2 separate regions of the Homo sapiens genome follow, and region 1 is linked to region 2. Evidence: fine-mapped expression QTL. A gene starts in region 2. The other region holds a variant in brackets. All regions are shown on one strand. Distances are between the middles of the regions. Region 1 overlaps LINC02288 (long intergenic non-protein coding RNA 2288). Region 2 holds the start of LINC02288 (long intergenic non-protein coding RNA 2288).

Region 1 (4,386 bases), 9.3 kb before region 2:
GTGGTGGGAGGAGAGAAGGCTTCCTAGCATGTCACAGTAGGGCCAACTAGCCCACCCTCTTTGCCATTTTACATGCAAGGAAACTGGCCCAAAGGGGAGGCCCCTGGCCCAGGGGCTTGTCACGGCAGAGCCAGGGCTGGAACCCAGCTCTCTGGATTGCCAGTCTTTCTTCAGGCGCTAGCAGATCATGTTCTCTGAGGCCTGGAATTGCCTCCTTCCTCACATCCACCTCTCTCCCCACCCCTGCCATGTGCCATGAGCAATCCTGCCCATGCTGCCCTAGGCCCGGCTCCCTGCCCCTCTTCCGGGGAGCCTTTGCCATCCTGAGTTAGAACCACTTGTTCTCTTTAGTCTGTAGCAAGTGTGTCTGTCTGTTCCTGGGTGACTCGCCCCATCTCCGCAGCTGATCTCTGAAACAAGTGCCAAGGGGTAGGACAGTACAATGGACGAGGCACTGGGCTTGACTTTGAACCTGAGTGGGCCTCCAACTTGCTGTGTGACTGAGGGAGGTCATTTCACCTCTCTGGGCTTCTATATCCCCCCCTGGTCTGGGTCAGGGTTGTTTGGATGTTATCCATGGAGTCTCTGACTCAAGGCAGAGTGGACAGGACCCTATCCCTGCCCTAGATTAAACTGCAGCAGTCTTTTTTTCTTTCTTAAATACTTGGGCTTTGGAGTTCTGAGGCACCCAAGTTTAAAGGCCATTCTGAGGTCCTTTCTACTCTGATCTTGCTCTCGGTATCTCTCACCCCACCCCACCATTAGCCAGGAGGAATATGGCATCTTACATAAAGTATTCTCAATAAAGATTTGGTGAACAGACTTGAGCGTCAGTGGCCAGGCGCGGTGACTTATGCCTGTAATCCCAGCACTTTGGGAGGCTGAGGTGGGTGGATCACCTGAGGTCGGGAGTTTGAGACCAGCCTGGCCAACATGGTGAAACCCCGTCTCTACTAAAATTATAAAATTAGCCGGGCGTGGTGGTGCATGCCTGTAGTCCCAGCTACTTGGGAGGCTGAGGCAGGAGAATCACTTGAACCCGGGAGGCAGAGGTTGCAGTGAGATGAGATCACGCCACTTCACTCCAGCCTGGGCGAAAGAGCGAAACTCTGTTGCCAAAAAAAAAAAAAAAAAAAAAAAAGAATTGAGCATCGAAGCAGGGCTGTGCTGAACCCAGCTCAACAGGGGAGGGGCAAGCAGGAAAGGAGACCCTGGAACAAGCTTCTAAGGTGAAGGCGGCCTTTGAGAAGGCAGCTGAGGCTGCCTTGAGTTTGTGGCTTCTGCTCCCCATCTCTTCCACGTTCCTTCCTGACTCGTCCCTGAAGTGAGCCACCGCCTCTCCCACGCCCTGCTGTGGGTGCCACAATGTCCTTGCACAAACCCTGCCCTGTCCCCTGCTGCCAGGGCCGCCCACACAGCTGGACGGACATGAGTCTGGCAGACACTGGTGTGGCTGAGCTCTCCTGGAACGAGGTTCGAAAGGGCTGTGGGGCTGGCAGGGAGCAACACTCCATGGCCTGGTCAGCTGGCCAAAAGCCAGGCAGCCCCCAGAGGCAGCCCCACCCGAGCTGGAGAGGTCTGCTGGGCTTCTCTGGGTCTCTCAGGGAGGACGGACTTGGTGTGCTTTTGGCAAGTCAAAGGCCCTGCTTTACGTTGTGTGGGTATGATGGTTCTGCTTTCAAATCTTGGCTCCTCCTGGAGCTACAAATTATACGCTAAAGTCTGGGCTCAGTGGTTCAT[T/G]CCTGTAATCCCAGCACTTTGGGAGGATGAGGAGGGTGGATCACTTGAGGCCAGGAGTTCGAGACCAGCCTGGCCAACATAGCAAAATCTCGTCTCTACTAAAAATACAAAAATTAGCCGGATGGTGTCACACGCCTGTAATCCCAGATACTTGGGAGTCTGAGGCACAACATCGCTTGAGCCTGGGAGGTGGAAGTTGCAGTGAGCAGAGATCGTGCCACTACACTCCAGCCTGAGTGACAGAGCAAGACTCTGTCTCAAAAAAAAAAAAAAAAAAAAAAAAGTACACTCTTGCCTTTATCCTGTAGCAGGGCTTCCATGCCCCAGGGTAATTAAGGACCACCCTAATTGTACAAGCGTGGCCACTTACAATTAGAAAAGCCTGTATATGCAATGTCTAATTCTGAGCCGGGTAAGAAAAGGCATTAGAAGTAAAAAGGAGAACCATTGTTACAGCCCCAAGAAGTTCCATTAGGACATTTACTAACATAATGTTTGAATTTCATCGTCATTGTCATCTTCATCGTTCTAGCACCCACCCACTTCTGAACTGCTCTAACCTTTATTACCATCTGCCATGTTCTCTGGACCACTCTTCATAGTCATTCGTGCATTCATCCCAGAACATCTCAGCAGGAGAGTCTTCAATCTTTGAGAACCTACTATGTGCCAGACCCTGTCAGGCACTTTTTCAATTTTTTTTTTTTTTTTTTTAGACAGAGTTTTCCTCTTGTTGCCCAGGCTGGAGTGCAATGGCGTGGTCTCTGCTCACTGCAACCTCTGCCTCCCAGGTTCAAGTGATTCTCCTGCCTCAGCCTCCCAAGTAGCTGGGATTACTGGTGCCCATCAGCATGCCCAGCTAATTTTTATATTTTTAGTAGAGACGGGGTTTCACCATGTTGGCCAGGCTGGCCTAGAACTCCCGACCTCAGGTGATCCACCCGCCTCAGCCTCCCAAAGTGCTGGGATTATAGGCATGAGCTACCTCGCCTGGCCAATTTTACTTTATTTAGTCATCACAGCAACCCTGCGAAGTTGATTGTTAGGATGCTTTTGGCTGCAAGTCACAGAAACCTTGGTTCCACTGGATCGAGCCAGGGGTCCCTCACTGAACAATGAAGGAATTGATGGAAATAGTCCAGATGTGGGTGGCTCCAGGGCAGAGTAATCCAGCTGCTGAACTGTGCCACCAGACTAATGTTCTTTCCACATTTCCTTCCATTCTATCATCTCTCTTTTTTTTTTTTTTTTTTTTTTTTTTTTTTGAGACGGAGTCTCGCTCTGTTGCCTACGTTGGAGTGCAGTAGCGCGATCTCCGCTCACTGCAAGCTCCGCCTTCCGGGTTCACGCCATTCTCCTGCCTCGGCCTCAGCTGGGACTACAGGGGCCCGCCACCATGCCCGGCTAATTTTTTGTATTTTTAGTAGAGACGGGGTTTCACCATGTTAGCCAGGATGGTCTCGATATCCTGACCTCGTGATCTGCCCACCTCGGCCTCCCAAAGTGCTGGGATTACAGGCGTGAGCCACCGCACCCGGCCTCCATTCTATCATCTTTAGTGTGTTGACTTAGTTCTCTGAATGGCTGCCTTCATCATAGCAAGATGGCTGCTGTAGCCCCAGCCATCATCACTGCAGACACACATACAGCTACAGAAAGACAATTGTTTGGCTGGGCGCGGTGGCTCATGCCTGTAATCCCACCATTTTGGGAGGCCGAGGTGGGTGGATTACCTGAGGTCGGGAATTCGAGACCAGCCTGGCCAACATGGTAAAACCCTGTCTCTACTAAAAATACAAAAATTAGCTGGGCATGGTGGCAGGCGCCTGTAATCCCAGCTACTTGGGAGGCTGAGGCAGAAGAATCGCTTGAGCCCCAGAGGTGGAGGTTGCAGTGAGCTGAGATCCCGCCACTTCACTCCAGCCTGGGTGACAGAGTGAGACTGTGTCTCAAAAAAAAAAAAAAAAAAAAAAAAAAAAAAAGAAAGAAAGACAATTGTTTCTCTCTCTCTCATGTTTTAAGATTGAGAAAATATGGCCAGGCGCGGTGGCTCACGCCTGTAATCCCAGCACTTTGGGAGGCCGAAGCGGGCGGATCACGAGGTCAGCAGATCGAGACCATCCTGGCTAACACGGCGAAACACCGTCTCTACTAAAAATACAAAAAATTAGCCGGGCGTGGTGGCGGGCGCCTGTCGTCCCAGCTACTCGGGAGGCTGAGGCAGGAGAACCGCGTGAACCCGGGAGGCAGTGCTTGCAGTGAGCGGAGATCGCGCCACTGCACTCCAGCCTGGGCGGCAGAGCAAGACTCCGTCTCAAAAAAAAAAAAAAAGAAAAAAAAAAAAAGATTGAGAAAATATGAAAATATTTCCTAAAACAAGCCCCCAACTCCCATGTCTTATTCACCAGAACTCGGTCACAGATCCATCCCCAAAGTGTTAGCAAGGGGGATGGGATGCTAAGATTAGCTCAGACTAATTGGGATTTCCCCCCAAGGCACGTGGAACTGAGGGGTGTGGGACTCCTGAAACAAATTCAGGGCACTAAGGAAGAAAGCAGGAGTGACTACTTTTTAGCAATCAACAGTGTCTGCCTCATGGGTAATTAATGTTATCTTCATTTTACAGGTGGGAAAACTGAGGCTGAG
Region 2 (4,386 bases):
CAGGCTGAAAAGCTTTTATCCAGCCCACAGCATTTCTCTCTCCAGATGCAAGATAGTTTTTTTTTTTTTTTTCCCAGCAGTACTTTGGTGGGGTTAAAATTAGCTGGCAGCATTCTGGTCACATGCTAGACAACAAAACAAAAGGGAGTTGTTCCCCCTGCCGCTCCTGAACTGGCCCACGACAGAGTTTCCTAATCCATGGATTTCTGGGAAGCTGGCTCTCCGGGCCCTGGTATGGAGGGGCTACACCAAGGACTCCCCTCCGGTTATCATCCCTGCTATAATGGGGCGACACAGACGAGGTCAAGGCTGTTTGGAATCTTGGAGCTTGCCTCGATCTGGAAAGGCACTCAAGGGTCCAAAATGGCTTTTGTAAATCTTCTCACCAAAGCCAACAAAGAAGCAAACACTACAAAAACACTGAGAGAGAGAAGGGTAACATCTGACACATGAACATGGGCATCCATTGACTTGTGGGGTGGTGGCTGCTCTTGGCATGATTAAAAAAAAAATAGCCGGGTGTGGTGGCTCATGCCTGTAATCCCAGAAACTTTGGGAAGCTGAGGAGGGCAGATCGCCTGAGGTCAGGAGTTCGAGACCAGCCCGGCCAACATGGCAAAACCCTGTCTCTACTAAAAATACAAAAAAAGTAGCCAGGCATGATAGCACGTGCCTGTAATCCCAGCTACTCGGGAGGCTGAGGCAAGAGAATTGCTTGAACCCGGGAGGCGGAGGTTGCAGTGAGCTGAGACTGCCCCACTGCACTCCAGCCTGGGCGACAGAGGAAGACACCGCCTCAAAAAACAAAACAAAACAAAAATAAATAAATATAATACATCTGGGCTAGAGGTGGCGAACATTTAGGATAGATTCTGTATCTCTTGACCTTGATGACAGGGACATGTCAGGGTCTGCTTTGTTCATCCAGCTTAAAACTGTCACCAGAAGCCCTGGATAAAAATGCAGCCTCTGATTCACACACGGTCAGGAAACATGCCTTGTGCTCAGTACAGAAACATGTCCGTCAACCTGGGAAAGGAATCACCACCACGAAATATGCTTTTGGCTTGCCAAAGCTTAGCAGCTGTGAGAGCCAAAAACCCAGCTGCCTGGACTGTCTGGGGAAGTTGGCGGGAGGGAGGGGGGGTTGCTTTCTGAATCACCTGATTTCTGCCTCTAACTCTAGTTTAATTCCAAGTCGAAACCTATCTTGAAATGTCTCAAGAGCCTACTGCTCCTAAAAATTGTAGGTTTTAGCTAACCCTTCAGCTCTGTGCCTGCTGGCAAGGTGAAGCAGATGGCGTTTGTTGATTATTTATTTGGAAGGGGCTACTTTGGAATCAGGAAATTCCAGCGAGACAGAGTGCATCGCCTTGGCCAGAGCTGCCGTGACAATCACGAGCAGACACCCAGAGACAGTCAAGTTCAAAGAAATTGCAGCTAAGCCCCAGGAACTTGGGGCATTTTCAGTCTTTCTCGTCTCCTGGCCTCCATGTTCACCATGCACTTAGGAAGAAATGTTTCGTTCAGTTCAACATTCTGTGGTCTTCAAGTGTTTGAATACAAGGGCCCACATTCAAGGTCCCGCTTTGTCAAAAGGGCTTCACGAAGCTAACAGGCCTCTGACTTGTGTTTCATCCTGAAGCCCCTCATTATACAGACAGATCAAAACAGAAATCCCCCCTGCCTTAATGCCCAGCACATAAAGTCCTCTTTAATTAACATACACCATTTTTCAGTGAAACAGCCTCAAGGTGTTAAAAGTGCATAAAGGTCTGAAAGCTGAAGCCCAAGATAAACAGTGTGCCGAAATATATTTAGCAGAAAATATTGAAAGCCACAGGAAAAATAAGTTCCCTTCCTGGGATGTTAACGAATGTTTAGGTTCAGGAAACCTTCAGGAAGTAGCGAGCCGAGAAGGAATACTGCTCACCGTTTTTACCCCCAATGTAAATAAATCACTAAACCTCTTTGGTTTCCATAGGCCTGGGCTGGAGTGGAATATTTCATTTTTTCCCCATTAAACAGGCCACCCGGAGTGTTGGCATTACAGGCCTGAAAATATACCAAATCTGAATGTGCTATTTTGTTTCTGTACATTAAATCAGACTGTGTTTCAAACGGCAGTTCGTGCTAAATGGGGGGCTGATGATCCAGACTGTGCACCCTCACACACCTGAAATTGGCGCAGCGTAAATGATAGATCTGTTTCACCTTGGATCTCCCCGTGTCTTGTCTCCTACAGGAACACACCCTCTGTCGTTGTTGCCCAAGGTGATGTCATGTTCATTCTAAAGGCCGCGGTTCCAAGGGGACTACACCACAAGAAGATGCCTTCAGAAAGACCCAGATTTCCTGCGGTCTCAGGTAGGCGGCAGGGAGCAAGAGAACAAGGAAAGGACCCGCCACCACTCTCCCCAAGATGGATGCTGCATGATGTAAGTGGCTGGCTAAAATATCTGGCATCCTTGCAGTTTTAAGTTGCCAGCTAAATATTATTAAAAAGATAAAATACACGCAAACTGTGCAGAATGCAGGGCTGCTGTGTTTACATCCGGGTTTTGATGACTCAAAGACTTACACTTGAGCTTGCTGAAAAGCCTCTATTAAAAATACCGCTTTGTGAAAGCCCCCAGGGAGCAGGAAGAAAGCTGGGGGTGTGAAAGAGGAGAGCGGGAGGATGGTGACCCACCCAAGGACGGCGCTGACACCTGTGCTCCGGGCTGGCACTTAAGGCCAAGGAAGTGCTTAGAGGTTAACCTCCTCTCACCCTCGGAACCAGAGCGGGGAGGGTTAACCTTTTTCCAGAACATTTATTTCACCATCTCACTGACTAGAGGGAGGAGGGGCGGGAGGGGGAGAACGAGAGCCTGCCGCGCAGAGAGGCTGCGGATCACAAGGCCATTCTGATAGCCTCCTGTCCCCATGGCAACTGCAACGGCATTTATCAGTTCCTTCTGCGCACAGGCACAGCAAATCTGCATTGCACATGGCAGGCTTCCAGCATTTCAAATGAAAGAGCACTTTGAACGGCTGCCAAGTTTGGAAGGAGCAGAACTGTCAGGGCTGCTTAAAGCTGGCAGTTTATACTGGGGAGGTTTTCGCTTCCCACAATTCTCCGGGCCTGGCGAGCCGCCAAGTACTTAGCGGAAGCTAAAAAGTAACTCGCTCCCCTCCCTCCCCTCCCCTCCCCCTGCTCACGCTCCCCCTCCACACTATTCACCGCAGTGCTCTCAAAATTTTCCACATGTCCTGTGTCACCAGTGCAGACTGTACAATGAAAACCAGAACGCCGGCTGCCCACGACCAGGCTTTTATTAATAAATAACGGAGGGAGGAGGAGGAGGGGTTGGGATCAGACACTGACAGCTGGGGCACCGGGTCTCCGCGTACCTGCCAAAACCCCATAACCACTGGGTGTGAATGCGTGTGGTGTGTGTGCCTTTCAGCCTTAAAAATACATTAATAAAAATAAAAATAAAGGGAGCCTCAGAGCTGTAGACACCCTGAGTACCAGGGGAGGAGGGGTGGGTTTCGGTTGGATGGTTTGGCGCTTTATTTAGGGTGGGAATGGAGGTCTTGCAGGCAGCGTTGTTCAGATCCAGCCTTTCTAAGATCTGTAGGGAAGAGGGTTGTTATTGAGAGCTAAGCCTGTTTCTGGAGCTTTCCTTGAATCTCTCAGATGTCATGGTGAAAGCTGTGAGGCCACAGATGGGGAGGGAGTTCGGAGATGCTTTTCAATGCAAAGTTTACCAGATAACTTCTGACCGTCACGCACAGCCCAGAGCACAAGGGCTTCTATGGGCAGAAAGTGGAAATTGGCATAGTATTCACTGTACTTTTTTTTTTTTTTTAATGAAAATCTACACTGAGATCAAGGGCTTGGGCTTTATTTTCCAGCACAAATAGAATGAAAATTGTCTGCCGCTTAGGCGGTTGGATAGAGTTCAGGAAAACTATGTCTGGCATTAATTCCAAAGTGGAGGTTTTGGTTCAAACGAGGCCCATTAATTTCAGTAAACTGTTTTCACTAGTCCAGACCCTGCTGTGCAAGGACTATTTATTACCTTTTGCTAACCTGATGTCTGCAGAGTTGTAAAGCAAAGGGGGAAAAATCCAGGGTGAAGATATCTATATTTTGCATCAAATGGGTTTTGCACTTCCCTTGGGGGGCCGTGTTTTATGGGGAGTTTTCTATCCTTGGCTTTTATCAGTGCCAATTTTTTAAAAAAAAACTCCATCTTGCAATGAATTAGAAAAAAAAAAATCCTGAAGGAGAGGAGCCTGGTGAGAGCAAATACCCATCTCCTGCCTCTTTCAGAAGGGCACCTCCCAGACACAGGGATGTTTCGTGTCCCTGTCTTCAGCTCCCAGGCTGCAGGTCCA

What was found. PIP is the estimated chance that this variant, and not a neighbour inherited with it, causes the effect. A credible set is the group of variants that fine-mapping cannot tell apart.
Region 1: its variant is the best candidate, but not a certain one, in a credible set for the expression of LINC02288 in whole blood (TOPMed, PIP 0.54).

Annotation. Positions count from the first base shown.
Region 1 is chr14:77,048,402-77,052,787 of GRCh38, reverse strand. The region is part of intron 1 of LINC02288 (long intergenic non-protein coding RNA 2288); the gene reads right to left. Among named protein-coding and RNA genes, the nearest start is that of LINC02288, 9.5 kb to the right of the region's middle. The variant T/G (reference allele first, on the strand shown) is at 1,741.
Region 2 is chr14:77,039,106-77,043,491 of GRCh38, reverse strand. LINC02288 (long intergenic non-protein coding RNA 2288) reads right to left here and starts at 2,443. Exons shown (of 4, transcript NR_110554.1): 1 at 2,215-2,443. RefSeq lists enhancers at 2,741-2,830, 1-2,964, 2,240-2,971 and a silencer at 3,081-3,270.